Linked DNA regions of Homo sapiens. The protein of the gene in region 3 interacts with the protein of the main gene of each other region in a biochemical or structural test. Each region holds a gene or a part of one and is shown on either strand. Other genes may lie near its edges.

Region 1 (5,729 bases), about 10 Mb from region 3:
TAACATAGCAGGGGCCTAGAAAGCAGGCTGTGACCCCTGCCTGCTTGTCCCCTGCAGGAGGAGCCCATCCCCTGCAGGCTGGGGACATCCTAACTACCCAGCCTCTCTTCCCCACAGTGGCCTGCACATTCAGCTGCATGATGAAGTTCACTGTCAAGGACTGTGATCCCACCACTGGGGAGACTGATGACGAAGGCTATGAGGATGAGTATGTGGTAAGATCCTGGTGTCAGGAAGCTCAGTTTTGTGCTGAGGCTGCAAAGCAACTCCCTTCAGGAACTGACAGTGAGACTGGAGCTGTTTTTGGCTTTTTAGCTCTTTAAAATTTTATTTTTTTATTTTTATTTTTTGAGATGAAGTTTCTCTTTTGTTACCCAGGCTGGAGTGCAGTGGCGCGATCTCGGCTCACTGCAACCTCTGTCTCCCTGGTCCAAGCGATTCTCTTGCCTCAGCCTCCCAAGTAGCTGGGATTACAGGCGCCCACCACCATGCCTGCCAAATTTTTTGTATTTTTGGTAGAGATAGGGTTTCACCATGTTGGCTAGGCTGGTCGCGATCTCCTCACCTCAGGTGATCCACCTACCTTGGCCTCCCAAAGTGTTGGGATTACAGGCGTGAGCCACCGCGCCCGGCCTAAAATAACTTTTTAAACTTATGGAAATACATGTTCATGTGTAAAAAGAAAACTTGGGAAATACAAAAACAAAATTCAAAACAAAGTATGAACAACAGGAAAACATTACTCATAATCCTTAGAGTTATTTTTGGGGGGAAGTGGTATAATTGAAATCATTCTTACAGTGTAGACCTTGCTATTTTAAAACCATAGTGTATTTTCCAGTATCATTACAAATACTTCATAAACACAATTTTTTTAGTGGATTTAAAATACTGTTATATACTATGTCAAAACTTGATTGACTTTTCACTCCTTTAATGTTGGGCATTTGGGTTTCCATATTTTCACTATTTATATTGCTGCATTAAATATCCCTTTAGATACAAATTTTTATCTGCATTTTAGATTATTTCTTTAGGATAGATTCCTAGAAGGAGAATAGTTGGGTCAAAGGGTAAGCATGATTTTAAGACATTTTGATTCCTCTTGTCAAATGCTTTCTGGATAAATTTGACCTGTTTGCTGTGCTGGGCAGTCCTTTCATGCACTGGAATAGCCCTTCTAAATTCTCCTATCTTAGCTCGGTGGAACTAAGTACAGGATCCTTCTGAGGTCTGACTTTGGGGCAGTGGCTCAGGGCCATCTGAGTGCAGACCATTATGCTCAGCCTGTGGATGGGGACTGTTAGAACTCCTCCTGACTAGAGGGACAGTCACAGTGGAATACAACTGACATTCGCCATTGTGTCATCCTAGAGTCACAGTTGAGGATGGATGGACCTTCCTTGAGCTGGAAATGACCCCGAGGCAGGAGCTGCTCTAAGACCAAGTGAGCTCCTTGAGAGAGCTGGGTCTGTTTGAGCCCATCCAGAGATGAAGAAAAAAAAAAAAGAGAGAGAGAGCTGGGTCTAAGTTGTATTTATATACACTGTAAACATCCACAGGAGTAGGGCCTCAGTGAAAATCTGATGGGAGAATGAATGGGGAACCTTCATGTAGACTCAGTGGGAGTATTATGTGTCAAGTTCAGGGAAGACACAGCTGAAATGGAGATAGAGATTCAGGATCTGTCAAATCCAGAGGACACAGCTGGGGTAGGAGGTTTCTGCTAGTTTCTGCTGAACTAGAAACAGCTGCTGGTCCTGAAGAGCTCATCATCCCCTAGGAGGGACAGGCATAGGAAGCAGACCTCTGAGAATGCTATGTAATTCCCTGCATGCCAGGTCCTGGAAGCACTGACACTAGGCAGGCTTAGAAGAGATGTGATCTCACAGCAGGCGGCTCTAGGCTGAATTAGTAGATTGGTACTTGGGATTAGGGCGTTTTCTGTTGAAGGGATACCATTTGCCTTTGGGCACCTCAAGGATAGGTACCTGGTCAAGTTGCTCTATGTCCCCAGAGTCTAGCACAGTCCTCAGTGCCGAGCAAGCACCTGTGGAAAGAGTTGCAGGAAGGGATGTGTGGATGAGTTCAGAGCAGAGGCCCGTAGGTGTGTAGATGGGTGCCTGATTTCTACCTCCATCTCTCCAGCTGGAAGATCTGGAAGTTACTGTAGCTGATCACATTCAAAAGGTCATGAAACTGAACTTCGAAGCAGCCTGGGATGAGGTAGGGGATGAATTTGAGAAGGAGGAAACGTTCACCTTGTCTACCATCAAGACACTTGAAGGTAAAATCCTGGGAATGCCATCTCTGGCCTAATTACTGTTCAAGATCTTTGGCTACTATTGAAGTGCTCATCCCTTTTCTCTCCAAGGATCCAGGGCCATGTCTGGAGCACATATGTCAAATGCCACTTCATTAAAAGCCCTTCAGAACATGGGGGAGTGGTGGTGGCACAAAGGGCAGATAAGATGGCTTAACAATATTGGGATTTCTCATTACAGAGGCTGTGGGTAATATTGTGAAGTTCTTGGGAATGCACCCTTGTGAGAGGTCAGACAAAGTGCCGGATAACAAGAACACCCACACGTTGCTCCTGGCTGGTAAGTGGCATTTCTAGATGGGGAGGGCCTGGATAGCTTACAGCCTGGATGCCACTGGATCCTGGGCTAAGGACTCCACTGTAAATATGGGGAGTCAAAATTCACAGCATTTAAAATTCACAAAGTATAAAATAATCTGCAGCGAAATGTTTCCTCCCTACCTTGGCTGCCAGCCATTCAGATTCCCTTCCGAGAAGCGACCAGTGTTACTATTACAAACAATACTTGTATAACCTTGCGGTTATTTTATGGCTATAAAAGCTAATAGGAACGCATTTCCTTTTTTTAACTCAAATGTTTATGTACAAATGGTATATATATTGTCCTCCGATTTGCTTTTCACTTTACATTGCATCTTAGAGATCTTCCCCGTCAATATGTAGAGCTTCCTCATTCTTTTTCTTTTAATTGTGGTAAAATATACATAAAATTCACCATTTCGACCATTTTCAAGTGTATGGTTCAGCGGCATTAAGTACATTCACACTATTGTAAAACTATGACCACCATCCATCTCCAGAACTTTTTTCATCCCAAACTGAATCCTCATTTTTTTTATAGTTGCTTAGTATTCCATTGTGTGGATGCACCACATATTCTATGGAACAGCCACTACTGATGAACATTTAGTTTGATTTCAATCTCTTGCTATTACAGATGTTACAGTAAATAATCGTGTACACACACACACACACACACACACACAGTTTACTTTGCATGTGTACACTGAGAATATCTGTAGGATAAATTTTCCAAGGCATCACCAGTTCAAAGTGATTTGTGTTTCTCATCTTGATAAATAACTCCAAGTTGCCTTCCATAGAATTGTATACCTTTCTTCCTACACTGTGGACAACATAATATGTTACCACACTTTATGATCTTTTCCAGTCTGTGTGGACAATGATATCTTAGTGTAGTTTTTGTATTTTCAATGAAGTTAAGTATCTTCTTAAATGTTGAGGCATTTGTATTTCCTTTTCTGATCATTGTCTTCATATCCTTTGTCTTATTTTCTACAGGGTTGGCTGAGTGTACCCACACTCATTCTCCTTCCCAGATTATTTACTAGCAAACTCCAGAAATAGCATTTTATATGTAAATCCTGTATCTGTATGTTTCTCTAAGAGAGAATGACCCCTTCCCTTTTTTAAAGGACAATACAATTATCATACCTAAAACAGTTAACAAAAGGAAATGGGATGATTTTTTTTGGCTGAGTGTTTATAAACAGGGTTGAAAGGAGGCTCTGCTTCAGTACCCTGCCTACAGCTGACAGTTTGTAGCCACATTGAAACAACCTAGTCCCCTGGGTCTTGCAGACACCTGCCCTGTGGTTTTCTCGTGGTGGGGCTGTCCCCTTCATTTGTGCTCTCAGATTCAGTCAACGTGCAAGAGCCTCTGTGACATGAGATATAAGCCTTTTATGTCCATCAGTTCATTTGAACTTAGCAGAAGCCTGAAATATGGTATTATCATCCCTGCCACTTTGTAGTTGAGGATACTGAAGTCCTGAGAGACAGTGACTTTCTTTTTTTTTTTTTTTTTTGAGACGGAGTCTAGCTCTGTCACCCAGGCTGGCATGCAGTGGCACAATCTCTGCTCGCTGCAACCTCCGCCTCCCGGGTTCAAGCGATTCTCCTGCTTCAGCCTCCCGAGTAGCTGGGATTACAGGCGTCCACCACCATGCCCAGCTAATTTTCGTATTTTTAGTAGAGATGGGGTTTCACTGTGTTGGCCAGGCTGGTCTCGAATTCCTGACCTCATGATCTGCCCACCTCAGCCTCCCAAAGTGCTGGAATTACAAGCGTGAGCCACCGCGCCTGGCTGAGAGACAGTGACTTTCACAGTGAAATCCCTCACTCAGGGATTTCAGCCCAGCTCTCCTGCCCGTTTCACTACACCAGAGCTGCCTTCATGGGTTGCTGCAAATGCCATCCTTAGCCTGCCCTGTACAGTCCCTTCTGCTGTATATATCTGTACTTCTCTCTTCCCTTCTAGGTGTGTTCCGGGGTGGTCATGACATCCTGGTGCGCTCCCGGCTGCTGCTTTTGGACACAGTGACAATGCAGGTGACAGCCAGAAGTTTGGAGGAGCTGCCAGTAGACATCATCTTGGCATCTGTGGGATAAGAGGCCAGCCTGCATAGGACCTCATACCCTTCCCCAACACTACCTGGAAGTTGTGCCTTCCTCATGAAACTGGCAGAAACCCCTTCCCAAGCTTCTGTATTGAAAAACAATTAGGAATCATTGCAGATTTTTTTTTATTCTGCTCCCACCTCCCACCCGGGACTACTTGCTGGTGACTTTTTTTTTTTTTTTTTTTAAATAGGGGATGATTTTAGCTTGTCCTAAATCTTGCTGTCCACCCTTCCAGGAAAGGGACATTGTAAATGAATAAAACATTCTCAACTCCTCTTGAATCTATCCCCCAAGAAACCATCTTATCCCTGTAATAAATCAGCATGTATTTATTGAATGATTGCTACTTCTGCAGACTCATGCTTCAGGGCTCCACCTTCCCCTTCAAGGCCTCCCCTAAAGAGGCAGAACACCTGCCCTGTCCCCCTTGCACCCACAGCCCTTTGGCTGTTGTAGTCCTGTGAGGCAGGACCCTCTCCCCGTCATCGCTGTCCCAGCACCAAGCCCAGGGGTGGGAGCGGTAGAGGGTGGTTGAGTGAATCAGCTAACAGGCAGAGTTCACACTCCCTCCCGTTCGTGCTTCTTCACAACGCATCCTCCTTTGATAGTCGATAAATGGAGGCTCCAAAGGGCTTGGGTCCTGTGTCTGATCGTTCCAGCATCTGGTCTTACATGGAGTGTGCCCTGGGGTTTCTGCTCCCTGTTCAGTTCAGCGAATCAGCATAGGCGAACAGCCCTCTAGAGCATTCTCTGTTGGTTGCAGATGAAGAATCTCCGGTTTAGGTCCCAAGGGGAGCAGGCTTTTAAACTCAAGCCAGGCTATTTTACCAACTTTGAGGCCAAAGTACACCCGAAAGGGCTGTTTTAAAAATCTGGGCCTCACCCTTAGAGATTCAGCTGAGGGGCTGGGGCAGGAAAGGCTTATTCTAGTGCCCACCAATGTTTGAGGGCGAAGTGCGCGATTCCTGGAAGTTCTTCTGAC
Region 2 (6,003 bases), on a different chromosome or scaffold from region 3:
TGCATCTTTTGCCGCTACTGCTTTCTGATTCCTAAAAATTACTCAGAGATCACTCATGTGTTCAGTGATTCAGGTTCTGTTGAAGATACCAAAGATATTCGGTTGGTCAAAATGACGGGCATATAAAGGCTTCTCAGGTTTCTGAGGTAAACTGAAGGGTCAGAATTCCAGTTGTGGATGAAGGAAATGGTGTTATGACTGCCTCAAGGTTTTGTAGCAAGTCATAGGGAACCAAGAGGAATCTTGTTTTCCTCAGAGGTCATGCCAACTCCAACTCCCGTTCCCTAAACTGTCTCTGAGCCATAGACTAGTAATGGACTCTTCAAGCTCTACCATTAGGTATCTTTTAAAGAAAGCTGGTTATTACTATTTATTCATTTTTTTCTCTTCTGTGCAGTGCAAAAGATATGAAACATCGGCTAGGTTTCCTGCTGCAAAAATCTGATTCCTGTGAACACAATTCTTCCCACAACAAGAAGGACAAAGTGGTTATTTGCCAGAGGTAAGAGAAAAGGCCTTGGTGAAGATGTACTTAGTATTAACTATCTGATGATGGGGATGTTCTGTGAGAAGGAACTTGTGCTCCTAGTTAAGCCAGATTTGGATCAAGATAGCCTCCATTTTCATGGAGATCATAACTACATTTGAAATTTCTATACATTTAGTGAAAAACTGCCCTCATCAATAACATATTTTGTCATAACGATGGAAAATAAAATCTTTGCCTTCATTCAGGATCTTAGATTTCTTGCCCCAATTTTTTTACCATGGCATTCCAATTATTCTGTTTCTCTCTATTTTTTCTAGAGTGAGCCAAGAGGAAGTCAAGAAATGGGCTGAATCACTGGAAAACCTGATTAGTCATGAATGTAAGTCTGACAGCAACCTGGGATGAGGTACTCTGGATAAGACAAGTTATATTATGCTGGTCTAATAGAAACTGCAGCAAGGCCTGGCTTCTTTCTGATGTTCAGACTCAGGAGACTCTTTAGGTCTTAAATTCAGTCTGTTTAAAATTTTAATATGCCCTAGAGCTTTGTGATATACAATGAAAAGTTTATGCAGGAACCATGTGGAAAACCATCTCTCTCATCACAAGGAAAAACGGAAGAGAGAAAAAAAATGATAAATATCAATACCTTCTTGCAAAATCAATCTCAGTTTCTCTTTCCCAAATTGACCTTGGTAATTGATAGCTGCATAGGCATTTCAGAAGCAAAATACTTCCTTGAAAGAGGCTTCCAACTTGAGTAAGAATCATTAGGTAGAACTGGGAACCACTGGATATCAAACACAGATTAGGGTTACCTGACTCCAGGTGACTTGAAAAAAGCAGGGGAAAAAGGGATTGCTTGAATCCATGCTTTATCCCCCAAGTACCTCAGCTTTATGTGAAATAGCATATCCAAGAGGCCAACCAGTGTGATGACAACTGTGGTCCTTTCTCCTGTATCATAGGTGGGCTGGCAGCTTTCAAAGCTTTCTTGAAGTCTGAATATAGTGAGGAGAATATTGACTTCTGGATCAGCTGTGAAGAGTACAAGAAAATCAAATCACCATCTAAACTAAGTCCCAAGGCCAAAAAGATCTATAATGAATTCATCTCAGTCCAGGCAACCAAAGAGGTAGGTTTTTTATGGATACATAAAAATTGTACGTATTTATGGAGTATGTGTGATATTTTGATACATGCATACAATGTGATAACAATCAAATCAGGGCAATTGCTATATACATATCTCAAACATTTATTATTTCTACGTGTTGAGAACATTCCAAATCTCCTCTTCTAGCTATCTTAAAATATACAATAAACTATTGATAACTATATCACCCTAATGTGCTATCAAACACTAGAACCTATTCCCTCTACCCAACTTTCTATCTATTCCTTCTACCCATTAGCCAACCTGACCAAAAAGGTAAGCTTTTATGGCAGAGAACTCTCTGGATCTTAGTGAAGGTTCCTAGAATAGTGGAGCTGACTATCATAATCTTGACAACCCCAAATAAATCAGTTTTTTAAAAAATCTCTTTTATCCATGTGGCTTACCATAACCTCCCTGCATGAATTTTTCTGATGAATCTCCCCAATTTGTTAGACAGAACAGAAGATCTTGCCCTGCTCTCTCTAAAGCAGAAAGGTTCATTCTGAACCTTTCATACTCTCTCACATGTGCCAAGGAGGACCCCAATGTCACTTTTGTTTTTTGCTTCTGAAATACAGAGGGTGCACTGCCACTTACAAGTCACTACAAAGCATACAGGCTTGCATCCTCAACAGGGATATAGGTCTAATGAAGCCTTGGCCTTTGCCCCTCAGGTGAACCTGGATTCTTGCACCAGGGAAGAGACAAGCCGGAACATGCTAGAGCCTACAATAACCTGCTTTGATGAGGCCCAGAAGAAGATTTTCAACCTGATGGAGAAGGATTCCTACCGCCGCTTCCTCAAGTCTCGATTCTATCTTGATTTGGTCAACCCGTCCAGCTGTGGGGCAGAAAAGCAGAAAGGAGCCAAGAGTTCAGCAGACTGTGCTTCCCTGGTCCCTCAGTGTGCCTAATTCTCACCTGAAGGCAGAGGGATGAAATGCCAAGACTCTATGCTCTGGAAAACCTGAGGCCAAATATTGATCTGTATTAAGCTCCAGTGCTTTATCCACATTGTAGCCTAATATTCATGCTGCCTGCCATGTGTGAGTCACTTCTACGCATAAACTAGATATAGCTTTTGGTGTTTGAGTGTTCATCAGGGTGGGACCCCATTCCAGTCCAATTTTCCTAAGTTTCTTTGAGGGTTCCATGGGAGCAAATATCTAAATAATGGCCTGGTAGGTCTGGATTTTCAAAGATTGTTGGCAGTTTCCTCCTCCCAACAGTTTTACCTCGGGATGGTTGGTTAGTGCATGTCACATGACATCCACATGCACATGTATTCTGTTGGCCAGCACGTTCTCCAGACTCTAGATGTTTAGATGAGGTTGAGCTATGATATGTGCTTGTGTGTATGTCTATGTGTATATATTATATATACATTAGACACACATATACATTATTTCTGTATATAGATGTCTGTGTATACATATGTATGTGTGAGTGTATGTATACACACACACACACACACACACACACACTTTTGCAAGAGTGATGGGAAAGACCCTAGGTGCTCATAACTAGAGTATGTGTATGTACTTACATGGGTGTTTTGATCTCTGTTCTTTCATACTACATTTGAACAGGGCAAAATGAACTAACTGCCATGTAGGCTAAGAAAGAAATGCTAACCTGTGGAAAGTTGGTTTTGTAAAATTCCATGGATCTTGCTGGAGAAGCATCCAAGGAACTTCATGCTTGATTTGACCACTGACAGCCTCCACCTTGAGCACTATTCTAAGGAGCAAATACCTTAGCTCCCTTGAGCTGGTTTTCTCTGATGGCACTTTTGAGCTCCTAAGCTGCCAGCCTTCCCTTCTTTTCCTGGGTGCTCAGGGCATGCTTATTAGCAGCTGGGTTGGTATGGAGTTGGCAGACAGGATGTTCAACTTAATGAAGAAATACAGCTAAGGCCTTGCCAGCAACACCTGCCGTAAGTTACTGGCTGAGTGAGGGCATAGAAGTTAAAGGTTACTGTTTTTATCCTCTATCCTTTTTTCCTTTCCTGATCAAGGTGCTCTTCTCATTTTTTCCTGAGAACCTTAGCCATCAGATGAGGCTCCTTAGTTTATTGTGGTTGGTTGTTTTTTCTTTATAATGGCTCTGGGCTATATGCCTATATTTATAAACCAGCAGCAGGGGAAAGATTATATTTTATAAGAGGGAACAAATTTTCACAATTTGAAAAGCCCACATAAGTTTTCTCTTTTAAGGTAGAATCTTGTTAATTTCATTCCAAACATCGGGGCTAACAGAGACTGGAGGCATTTCTTTTTAGGCTCTGAGACTAAATGAGAGGAAAAGAAAAGAAAAAAAAAATGATTGTCTAACCAATTGTGAGAATTACTGTTTGAAACTTTTCAAGGCACATTGAAATACTTGAAAACTTCTCATTTATGTTATTTATGATGTTATTTTGTACGTGTTATTATTATTATATTGTTTTATAAATGGAGGTACAGGATATCACCTGAATTATTAATGAATGCCCAGGAAGTAATTTTCTTCTCATTCTTCTAAAACTACTGCCTTTCAAAGTGCACACACACGCGTCCACATACACTGCATTCGTTGCTCCAGTATAAATTACATGCATGAGCACCTTTCTGGCTTTTAAGCCAATATAATGGGCTGCAAAATGAAGACACCAGAGTGTATGCATACAAATCTCACTGTATTAAAGATGCAGGTTTTCTAATTGTACCCTTCTTGTCTCTCTGGCAATCTTGCCCTTAATATCCCTGGAGTTCCTCATCAGTGTCATTTTCTGTTATACACAGTTCCACAATTTTGTCTCTAGTTGACTTCAAATGTGTAACTTTATTGGTCTTGCCCTATTATAATTGTCATGACTTTCAGATTGTATCTGAACTCACAGACTGCTGTCTTACTAATAGGTCTGGAAGGTCACGCTGAATGAGAAGTAAATTATTTTATGTAATACATTTTTGAGTGTGTTTTTCAGTTGTATTTCCCTGTTATTTCATCACTATTTCCAATGGTGAGCTTGCCTGCTCATGCTCCCTGGACAGAATACTCCTTCCTTTTGCATGCCTGTTTCTATCATGTGCTTGATAGGCCTCAAAGCTAATGCTTCCAGTGAAACACACGCATCTTAATAATAAGGGTAAATAAACGCTCCATATGAAACTATTTGCTTGGAAACACATTAATGATCCAGAGACATGCTATGAGAAACATCAGGGTGTAGGGTGACTTTAGAAAAATACTCATACTGAGTCTTTAATCCCTCCTGTGCCAGTGAACTCTGGGAAAGAAAGTACAAACTGAATATTGTTTATTCTTTAGTTCATGCCACTGCTCTGCTTGGCTCTACTCATAGAACCAAGGCAATCTTAGCTTCAGAGACTGCAAAACAGATTAAGTGATTTGCTTGCAGATTCTCAATCAATTTTCAAGGGATAGAGTTCACCTTCCAGAGCCATTCTTTTATTTCCAGTTACCCGCCTGTTTGAGAGATGATAGAGCAGTGGGAAATTGAGAGAGTTGAAAGGAGCTATAGATTCTTACCCAAACTTCAAAAATCCTTCCCTCCCTTTTGTTAATTCTCTTTCCTGGAAAAGAGGTCATAAAATGTTCACATCCTCAGTAATAGGCCCTGTGCTGTGTCTATTATGTCATGAGACTCCCATTTCCTGACCCTTCTTTCCCATTGTAAGAGTAGTAGTTACAAGGTGTTAAGGATAGATGATCTTCAACACTTTTGAGAAATAGATCCATTTACGGATCTGGTAAAAACTATGGACCGAACCATCTTTTAAGAAAAAAATTCAGAGAGGAATCTAAATTTTGTGTGCTTTGAGGGGAAACTCTCAGAATCTCCCCTCAAAACTATCATTCTTCTCTTATACTATAGATGTGTCAGACTCTCACTGGGACTGTATAGTTGCTGCTCCCTGTATTTGATAATATCTATCAAGAACTGCAGGGTAATTCAAAGTCACGCTATTAGCAGCAAGTGTGAGCAGTGTTGGTTTCCCCAGTCTCTACATCCCTCATCCTTTCTTTCTTCTTTATGGTTGTCTATTAAAGAAATAAAAAAAAATATTGGCTGACCGTTTTTCTGAAGATAATGTATATCAAGGACCACCTTTTGAAAAACACTCATTATTCGAGAACAAAGACACAACATACGAGAATCTCTGGGATACATTCAAAGCAGTGTGTAGAGGGAAATTTATAGCACTAAATGCCCACAAGAGAAAGCAGGAAAGATCTAAAATTGATACCCTAACATCACAATTAAAAGAACTAGAAAAGCAAGAGCAAACACATTCAAAAGCTAGCAGAAGACAAGAAATAACTAAGATCAGAGCAGAACTGAAGGAAA
Region 3 (8,360 bases):
CTAATAATCTGGATTTTTACACTTTCAGGTAAACAAAAGTTAGCATCCTCTGCATCTGGAATTCTACATCAAACTCCCATGGAGTAAATTTAACAAATTTAAAATGTTTAGAAGGTAGTCACATGAAGTGTACAGCACATTGTGGTTGGTCAATGCTTTTGCAATCAGTCCAACATTTGCCTCTAAGTGTTGGGCAACCACAAACTCCATTTTTCTTGGAAGACAGTTCAGTGGATCTCCAACTCAATTTAGTCTGCTGCTGGCTGCTACTTGACTATGTGGTCAAAACTTTTGCTTTCATTCACCTCATACAGAAATCAGGCTGATAATCTTAACATTTCCTCTAACAGGAAAAGTAACTGACATGTGATGATGTATCAGTAATGGAGCATGAAGATTACCCTACTTAACATTCTTAAATGGTTCCCCAGAGCCTACAGGATAAAGTCCAGACTCCTTTAACTGGCTATCATGGATCTTCAGAATCTGAATCTCATTTATCTTTCTAATACCATTTCTCAATCCTCCCCCTTCTTACTCTCTGGCCCAGGCATGCTGAACTATTCTTAGCTCTCTGGAAAAGTCAAATGCTCTAGATATACTCTCTTGACATTTACCTGGCTAGTTCCTACTCACACTACAAAGGTCCATTTAGTGGCCTGCATCCATTTGGAGCCTATCATAATTAAATCAAGCATGCCCTAAATGCAGGAACAGTCAACCCACTTACAGTGAGACACCTCTCACATCAACATTTGCCTTTCTTCACTAATCGCTTGGTAAAATAGTTTATACTGATGACCTCTACTTTTTTTATCATCCAATAATTTCTAAACCCTTTGTAAACTTGCCTTCCCTACCATTACTCAACTTTTTTGAAGGCTGATAGTGTCCTCATAATCATTTATTTCATTGGCAATAGTTTTGGCAAATACTAAGCCTCCTTAAATTCTCTAAAGCTATCAAGATGCTAGTCACCCAGTCACATTTTCCCTTTCTTTTCCTTCTGTGACATAAAGTTATTCTGGGTCTCTTATTCTGATTGTTCCTACACTGACTCCACTTCTTTTTCTTTCACTTTTTCTTCTTTCCTGATTCTCTTTCTCTGATTGTTCCTTCATTGGCTCCACTATCATTCACTGGCTCCACATCTTCCTCTGATTAAAGATATTCTTCTGGGTTCATTAGATTAAAAACATCAGCAATAGGATGCCTCCCACTCCCTCAATTCAACAAACGCATTTGTGTATCCAGTTGATTCTAGCTTCTCAGGGAAAAAAGGAGAAATTACAATCCAGTAAAAAAAGATGTTAGTATCATTAAATATAACTTAGGTTCATATCTCAGGTCTGTCAGTCATGAGCAATGTGGCATGAGGTATACTACTTAATCAATTTAAGCCTCTGTTTTTCATCTATAAATTGGAGAAAATAATGCCTATCTTTTAGTATTACTTTATGAATTGCAGTATGCAAAGTACATATTCCAATGGCAGGTAGGTACATAGTGGGCATTTAATAAAAATTTTTCCTTATTACTGTTATTTCCACACTCACTTCCACCAAACTTATATAGTCTGTTTCAACTTCTTTTAGTGTGTCATACACATCAACAAAAGACAAATCATCTAGAGTACAGATATAAACAGGTTTCCTATCTGGCCCAGTAAGTCCCAACTGCTTGACTCAAAGCTCAATTTCTCCCGATTTAAAAATCTTCAGGTTCTAGCCCCAAGCTTCCTCTTCAACCTTCTCCCTCACTGCTCTTCTAAATGAATACCATTCTCCAAACAAATTGGACCTTTTTTGGTTCTCAAACATGCCGTATACTCTTCACCTCAAAGTCCACCTCAGATTCTACCTCCTTTATGAAACTTATCTCCCTAGCTGGATATTTTATCTTCAGAGTATTTTACTGGTACTTCTCTCAGAAGGTACTCATATTCTGCCTGGTATTCAATTATTTGTGCATAAATAACCTTTCCTGCTTATAAATTGTAACCCCTTTGAAGGGAGAAACTAGGTTCCTATTCGTGCTAGTACTTACCACTTAGCTAAGTGATAACACATGTATATTTAAAAATAATAAACAAGGCTGGGTGTGGTGGCTCAAGCCTGTAATCCCAGCACTTTGGGAGGCAACGCAGGCAGATCACCTGGGGTCAGGAGTTCAAGATCAGCCTGGCCAACATGGTGAAATCCCATCTCTTCTAAAACTACAAAAATCAGCCAGGCGTGGTGGCGTGCACCCGTAGTCCCAGCTACTGGGGAGACTGAGGCAGGGGAATCGCTTGAACCCGGGAGGTGGAGGTTGCAGTGAGCTGAGATGGCGCCACTGCACTCCAGCCTGGGTGACAATGTGAGACACCATCTCAAGATAAATAAATAAATACAAATAAAATAAAATAATAAACAAAAAACCCTGACTCTTTCTCAACGAATTATTTTCCTCAACTTCTTATGAAGAGGTAGGAATAGGGTGGGAAGGGAACAGTGTATATAGGGTACTTACAGAGGCACTGCAACCTGAATTCCCACTTGGAATTCTCCCAGCTGCTGCAAAAAGGCAGGGCTGAAATAGCTATTATAGAAATTGACTAGGTAAGACTTTAAGATCTGTTAATCGATTGCAGTCAACCTCTTGGGAAACCCTTTACCAATCTGCTAAGCTTGTCTATATTTCTTTTCTTCCCAACGGTTATTTTTCCTAACCTTCCAGTCTCCTCTAAACCAAGTAAACAAAAGATTTTAATTTAAACCCACAGTCGAACGCCTAGTGAAATACACGTGTATATTTAATGTTATGTATTAGTTCCTATTTAAGAATTTTATTTCTTTAAAATTTATTTCAACCAAAATCCAACACCAAATTCTATGGGTAATATCTTAAGGCAGCACCTAGTATAGTGCTTTGTATATAGTACACATTCAGTATGTAATGGTTAAAAGAGTGAATTTACAGTCTACAATTGCAGGACTTAATTTTGGCTAATTGCAGTGGAAAACATGAGAAAAGATATAGTCCAAGTAAGAATGACACTTGAGGGTTCAGGCCCGCAACACCAGCTAGGTAGACCCTTAGGTGGCCCAGTGGTATACAAAGATTTAAGCATTCCCAGCTGAGCCCCTTGACAATAGAGATACATCATTTTATTTTGTATCACTTAGTACTGTGCCAAATCCAAAAATACTCTCTCAAGTGCAAGAGTATTCAGGAGTTAGAAATATTGAAAGTTCCACTATTCAAGCAAATTAGGTATAGTTCATATAATTTTTTCAACTCAGGATCCTCAGTCACTCCATAGAGTAAGCAAAGTATGCAATTACTAGAATTATTAGTCTCAATTTACATAAGATCACACTGCTGGCACTAAACTCCAGTTCCAGACTCTTTTTTCCACTATTGAATGCCACAGAAACATAAAAAAAAAAAAAATGGAAGGATCTTTAGAAACCATGTAGCTGGATTTTTTTTAAGATGATGAAAACTGAGGCCCATGAAGAGAGTCACATTAGCTCAAGGCTCCTACTAAAGCCAAATAATTTCGTGCAAAATCATCTCCCTCTGATTATCATTATCTACACACACAAATACATAATTTTTCTTTTTGCCTTTCTGAAAATCTGGAGGTCTGAAAAGACTTTAAGATTTCTCTCAAGTTAAAAATACACGTTTGTACGTGTAACCAGAGGGCAAGTTTTCTATGGTCCACATGTTTTCTTAAAAAAAAAAAAAAAAAGGAAATACAGGAGATGTGCAGTGCGTGTGACAGGCAAATGTTCTCGAACTTTATTGTGTAGTGTAACCCCTATGGCACAGGCCCTTAGAATTCAGCCACATTAATGAAGAGATATTTTTATGTAGTAGAAAGAGCACAAACTTTGAGGTGTTTTGTTTTGAGACAGAGTCTTGCTCTGTTGCCCAGGCTGGAGTGCAGTGGCGCGATCTCAGCTCACTGCAACCTCCACCTCCTGGGTTCTAAGCGATTCTCCTGTCAGCCTCTGGAACAGCTTGGATTACAGGCGCCCGCCACCACGCCAGGCTAATTTTGTATTTTTAATAGAGACGGGGTTTCACCATGTTGGCCAGGCTGGTCTCGAACTCCTGACCTCAGGTGATCCACCCGTTTCGGCCTCCCAAAGTGCTGGGATTACAGGCGTGAGCCACCGCGCCCGGCCCAACTTTGAGGTTTTATCTGCCACTTACTATGCAGTCTTGGCTAGAACACTTAACTTCTTTGAGCCCGAGTTTCCTCATCATTAAATGGAGATAATTCAGGTTTGATGTGAAGATTTGAGAAGAAGGTATGTCTGACACACTGCCGAAGATCGATAAATATTTGTTGAATGAATAACACAGCCAGCCGAAGCTCAACAAAAGACACATACACAAACACACCCACACGGTTGGGTAGTTGCCGTCTCCCGGGGAGCTCCAGAAGTGTAAGCTCTCAGCCCTCCCTCTGACTTCAGAAGCCTGAAGCTACTAAGCCCGCAGCCCGGTGCGTCTCTTCGCAGCCTTAATCAGTGCCCGGGCAAAGGCCTGCAGAGAATTCTCTGGGCCTCGCACCAGGCCCCAAGAACACACTGGAGACTCGTTTCGCCTTCTCCCTCGCCGTTTCCCCCCTCCAGGGCCAGAGTCCGAGGAAGCCCGATAGCGGTTCTCGGCCTCCGAAACACAACTACAACACTGGGGAGCTTGCCCTGCAGTTAGCGTCCAGCGGGGATTAGGCACTTCGTTTTCCTCATCGTTTCAATCTCTATCTTCTGGTCGGGGTCCAAGCTCAGCGGCACCACGTCACGGCCCTTAGTGGTCTAGGCCACACCCCTCCTTCCCGACAGCCTCAAGTCCACTACCAGCGGTCTGGAAGGCCACGTTGCCTAGGAAACTGGGGCGGGGCTTGGGAAACGACGGCCCTGCGCGCAGTTTGCGCAGGCGCTCCGGCCCTGGCCTCTGACTATCGCGAGAATCGGCTCCCGGAAGTTCCACGTCAGTCAGTCTGACGGTCAGTGGATCGGTGGGTTTATCTCAAGGCCTGAGTAGCCGGTAACAAACGAGGGTTCCCGGGATTGGACCGACGCAGCCATGGTAGGTCCAGATCCCGTAGAAGGGAGCGGGGTCCCATAGGTTACGGCCGATTCCTGGAGCTTCTGGACTGAGGGCCGCGGTAAGCAGTGGTCTGGGCTCCCGCTGCGGCCGCCGCCTCAGGCCTTGCGGGGTCTTGGTCGTTTGATTCCAGGAAGGGAGAAGGCGGTGGGGCCTAGGGGACCGGGGTGATTTGGGGAGGCAAAGCCTGCTAGTGAGGGGTTTTGTCTCCCCTGGCGCTTGTGGCGCTTGCCAGAGCTCCTGCAGTCTGCAGCGGGATCGGTGGTGTAGGGAAACACAGAAGCCGAATGTGTTGAACTCCGTAGGAGGCTTTGGTAAAACTAAAGTTTGCCTTTAAAACGGTGGTAGTTAATCTACACTCCTGTTGGGCTTATTCTGGGGATAGTGTGTGCTGGCTACAAACTATAAACAAGCAAAGAAGCCAAAAACAAATGTATATGGAGTCAAAAATGGAATTTCAAATGCTTTGATATCTCAGCTGTTAGGTTTCTAAGGGGAGAAGAAGGGTTGGGAGGAAGGGGGTGCTGTTTATAACACTGGCTGGTGTGCTTTTATGCATTTGCAAATCCAGTGGCTGGTAAGAATAGTAATTGTTAGAGCACTTTGTTATTATCACCGTAACCCTAAAAAACGCCCTAGACTAGTTTGCACAAGAGTGTTATAATAATAAGGAAAGAAAACGATAGTATAAGAATATCTTCCGTCTCTATTGAAAATGCAAAAAAAAAAAAAAGAAATTAGCCGGGCGTGGTGGCGGGCCCCTGTAGTCCCAGCTACTCAGGAGGCTGAGGCAGGAGAATCGCTTGAACCCGGGAGGCAGAGGCTGCAGTGAGCCGAGGTCGCACCACTGCACTCCAGCCTGGGACAGAGCAAGACTCCGTCTCAAAAAAAAAAAAAAAAAAACTTGTTATGAAGCACAGAATCAAACATTTTGGAGCTTGAAGACGCTAGGGATTAAGTCCCTCATCTTAAGTTAAAAAATTTTTTTAAATTATGTTTCTACAAGGTTAATTGTGGCAAAGTTGGAACTAGGAAAAAGTTAGGAATACTCCCAGGGAAAATGCACAGAGAAACAAACATTTTTGCATAAAATTCAGTGCATTCATTCACAGACACCCCCCCCCACAATCCATGGACCTTCTTTTTTTTTTTAATTTGTTTTATAAAAAATATGGAACGCTTCACGGATTTGCGTGTCATACTTGCGCAGGGGCCACGCTAATCTCCTCTCTATGTGCTGCCGAAGCTAGCACTATCCGTGGACTTTCTTGGGCACCCAGGTTACAGTCCCTGAACAAGACCTCAAGCCTCTTAATTAGAGCACTTCGTATTACTAACTACCTGATGTAGTTTGGGTCTGCTGTGGTTGCAGTAATGGACGTTTTTGGAAAAGGCTCTTGGATCTGCCTAATTTCATTTTCTTTTGCCGTCTTTACATTTACCAGTGTATTTCTATAATGAAATATTGCCTTCATTCTTTATATATTTTAAATCCTTTGTGGAAAATACAAAACGTGAATTCATTCATTTGTACATTTACCATAGAATATTTAGTGTCTGCCATGCACTTTGCTAAACATGGCTGCCTAATTCTCACAGCAGCTGGGAGATAGAGTTATATGTTTGTGAAGTGGTTACTGTAGGTCAGGCACTGCTCTAACTGGCTAACTCTGAATTTAATTCTTACAGCACTAAGAGGTAGATAATAATAATATTCCTGTTTTACATAAGTCAAACTTGAAAGAGGTTAAGTAAATTTGCCCACTATTGCACATCTGAAATGAGTGGTGGAACTGAAATTTAAATCCATCATGGCTTTCTAGTCTTGTGTTATGGTATCTGTTCTTAAACCCCCATACTCAAATATATAAGGTGATCTGGAGATAAAGACATGTATAAGCAATGACCCTGGCTTTAAGGAGGATCTACTCTAGAAAGCAAGAAAAGATGTGTACACAAGTGTACCATGAACAGTTAAAATGAAATCCTATAGGATTCCCTAGGAAAGAATGCTTCAGGCTAGGGTAACTAGAAAGGTCTTACTGGTGGCAGTGGCATTTAAGCTGAGTCCTAAATGCATCCAGCTTTTGGAAGGTGGAGGGATATATTTAAAGTTGAGGATACAGTGTGAGCATCCTAATCATCTTTGTCCCAAAGTACCTAGTACATTGTCTTATTCAAAATAGTCACTTAACTGTTGGGAGAAATATTATCACAAGAACCCTTGCCTGTTCGTTCTTTCTTTCTTTTCTTTCTTTTCTTTTTCTTTTCTTTCCTTCCTTACTTCCTTCTTTCCTTCTTTCTTTCTTTCTTTCTTTCTTGACAGAATCTCACTCTGTCGCCCAGGCTGGAGTGCAGTGGTGCAATCGTGGCTCACTGCAACCTCCACCTCCCAGATTCAAGTGATTCTGCAGCCTCAGCCTGCCGAGTAGCTGGGACTGCAGGCGCGTGCCACCACGTCCAACTAATTTTTTTTTTTTTTTTTGTATTTTTAGTAGAGACGGGGTTTCACCATGTTGGCCAGGCTGGTCTCAAACTCCTGACTTCAGGTGATCCTCCCGCCTCAGCTTCCCAAAGTACTGAGATTACAGGCATGAGTCACCACGCCTGGCTGCCTGTTCTTTTTTAAACTGAGATTTGTGCTTTGGGAGTATGTAGAGGTTTACTGGGGTTGCTCAGAGTTCATTGGCCCAACTTATGGAGCATCACTTTTACTCAATAATCAATAATTTAAAATATTTTAAAGTAAAATGTTCACAATTTGTAAGTGTCCAATTTCCTCATTACTGGAGGAAAATTGTGAGACATGCTGGCTTATATGAAAACCCTCACCATGGTTCCTGCCTGGTACATAATAGACTCTTCATACCTGTTGACTCCATAGAGATTTAAAAAGAAGTTAAAATTTGTAATAGTAATTTATGGGGCAGAATTCAGAAATGAAGTAAAAAGCCTTGATTTTGGGAACTAGCAAGGAATGTTAAGATGATGATTTGAAAGTGGAAAATTGGAGCTGGGAGACCGAGGTGGGTGGATCACAAGGTCAGGAGAGGAGTTCGAGACCAGCCTGGCCAATATGGTGAAACCCTGTCTCTAAAAATACAAAAATTAGCTGGACATGGTGGCAGGCACCTGTAGTCCCCAGCTACTCGGGAGGCTGAGGCAGAATCCCTTGAACCTGGGAGGTGGAGGTTGCAGTGAGCCGAGATCACGCCACTGCCCTCCAGTCTGGGCGACAGAGCAAGACTCTGTCT

The links.
Region 1: the proteins of COPB2 (region 3) and COPG1 form a complex in vitro, tested with the Homo sapiens proteins (one study listed by BioGRID).
Region 2: the proteins of COPB2 (region 3) and RGS4 form a complex in vitro, tested with the Homo sapiens proteins (one study listed by BioGRID).

What each region holds. Positions count from the first base shown.
Region 1 is NC_000003.12:129,272,690-129,278,418, forward strand, and holds the end of COPG1 (coatomer subunit gamma-1), read left to right. Parts: intron 1-117; coding exon 118-215; intron 216-2,148; coding exon 2,149-2,287; intron 2,288-2,504; coding exon 2,505-2,603; intron 2,604-4,604; coding exon 4,605-4,735; 3' UTR 4,736-5,084; downstream 5,085-5,729. UniProt on the Homo sapiens protein: The coatomer is a cytosolic protein complex that binds to dilysine motifs and reversibly associates with Golgi non-clathrin-coated vesicles, which further mediate biosynthetic protein transport from the ER, via the Golgi up to the trans Golgi network.
Region 2 is NC_000001.11:163,071,998-163,078,000, forward strand, and holds the end of RGS4 (regulator of G-protein signaling 4), read left to right. Parts: exon of another isoform or gene 1-146; intron 147-397; coding exon 398-502; intron 503-807; coding exon 808-869; intron 870-1,000; exon of another isoform or gene 1,001-1,280; intron 1,281-1,380; exon of another isoform or gene 1,381-1,458; coding exon 1,459-1,625; intron 1,626-2,323; coding exon 2,324-2,563; 3' UTR 2,564-4,805; downstream 4,806-6,003. UniProt on the Homo sapiens protein: Inhibits signal transduction by increasing the GTPase activity of G protein alpha subunits thereby driving them into their inactive GDP-bound form. Activity on G(z)-alpha is inhibited by phosphorylation of the G-protein.
Region 3 is NC_000003.12:139,386,276-139,394,635, reverse strand, and holds the start of COPB2 (coatomer subunit beta'), read left to right. Parts: upstream 1-4,988; 5' UTR 4,989-5,085; coding exon 5,086-5,088; exon of another isoform or gene 5,089-5,167; intron 5,168-6,271; exon of another isoform or gene 6,272-6,357; intron 6,358-8,360. UniProt on the Homo sapiens protein: The coatomer is a cytosolic protein complex that binds to dilysine motifs and reversibly associates with Golgi non-clathrin-coated vesicles, which further mediate biosynthetic protein transport from the ER, via the Golgi up to the trans Golgi network.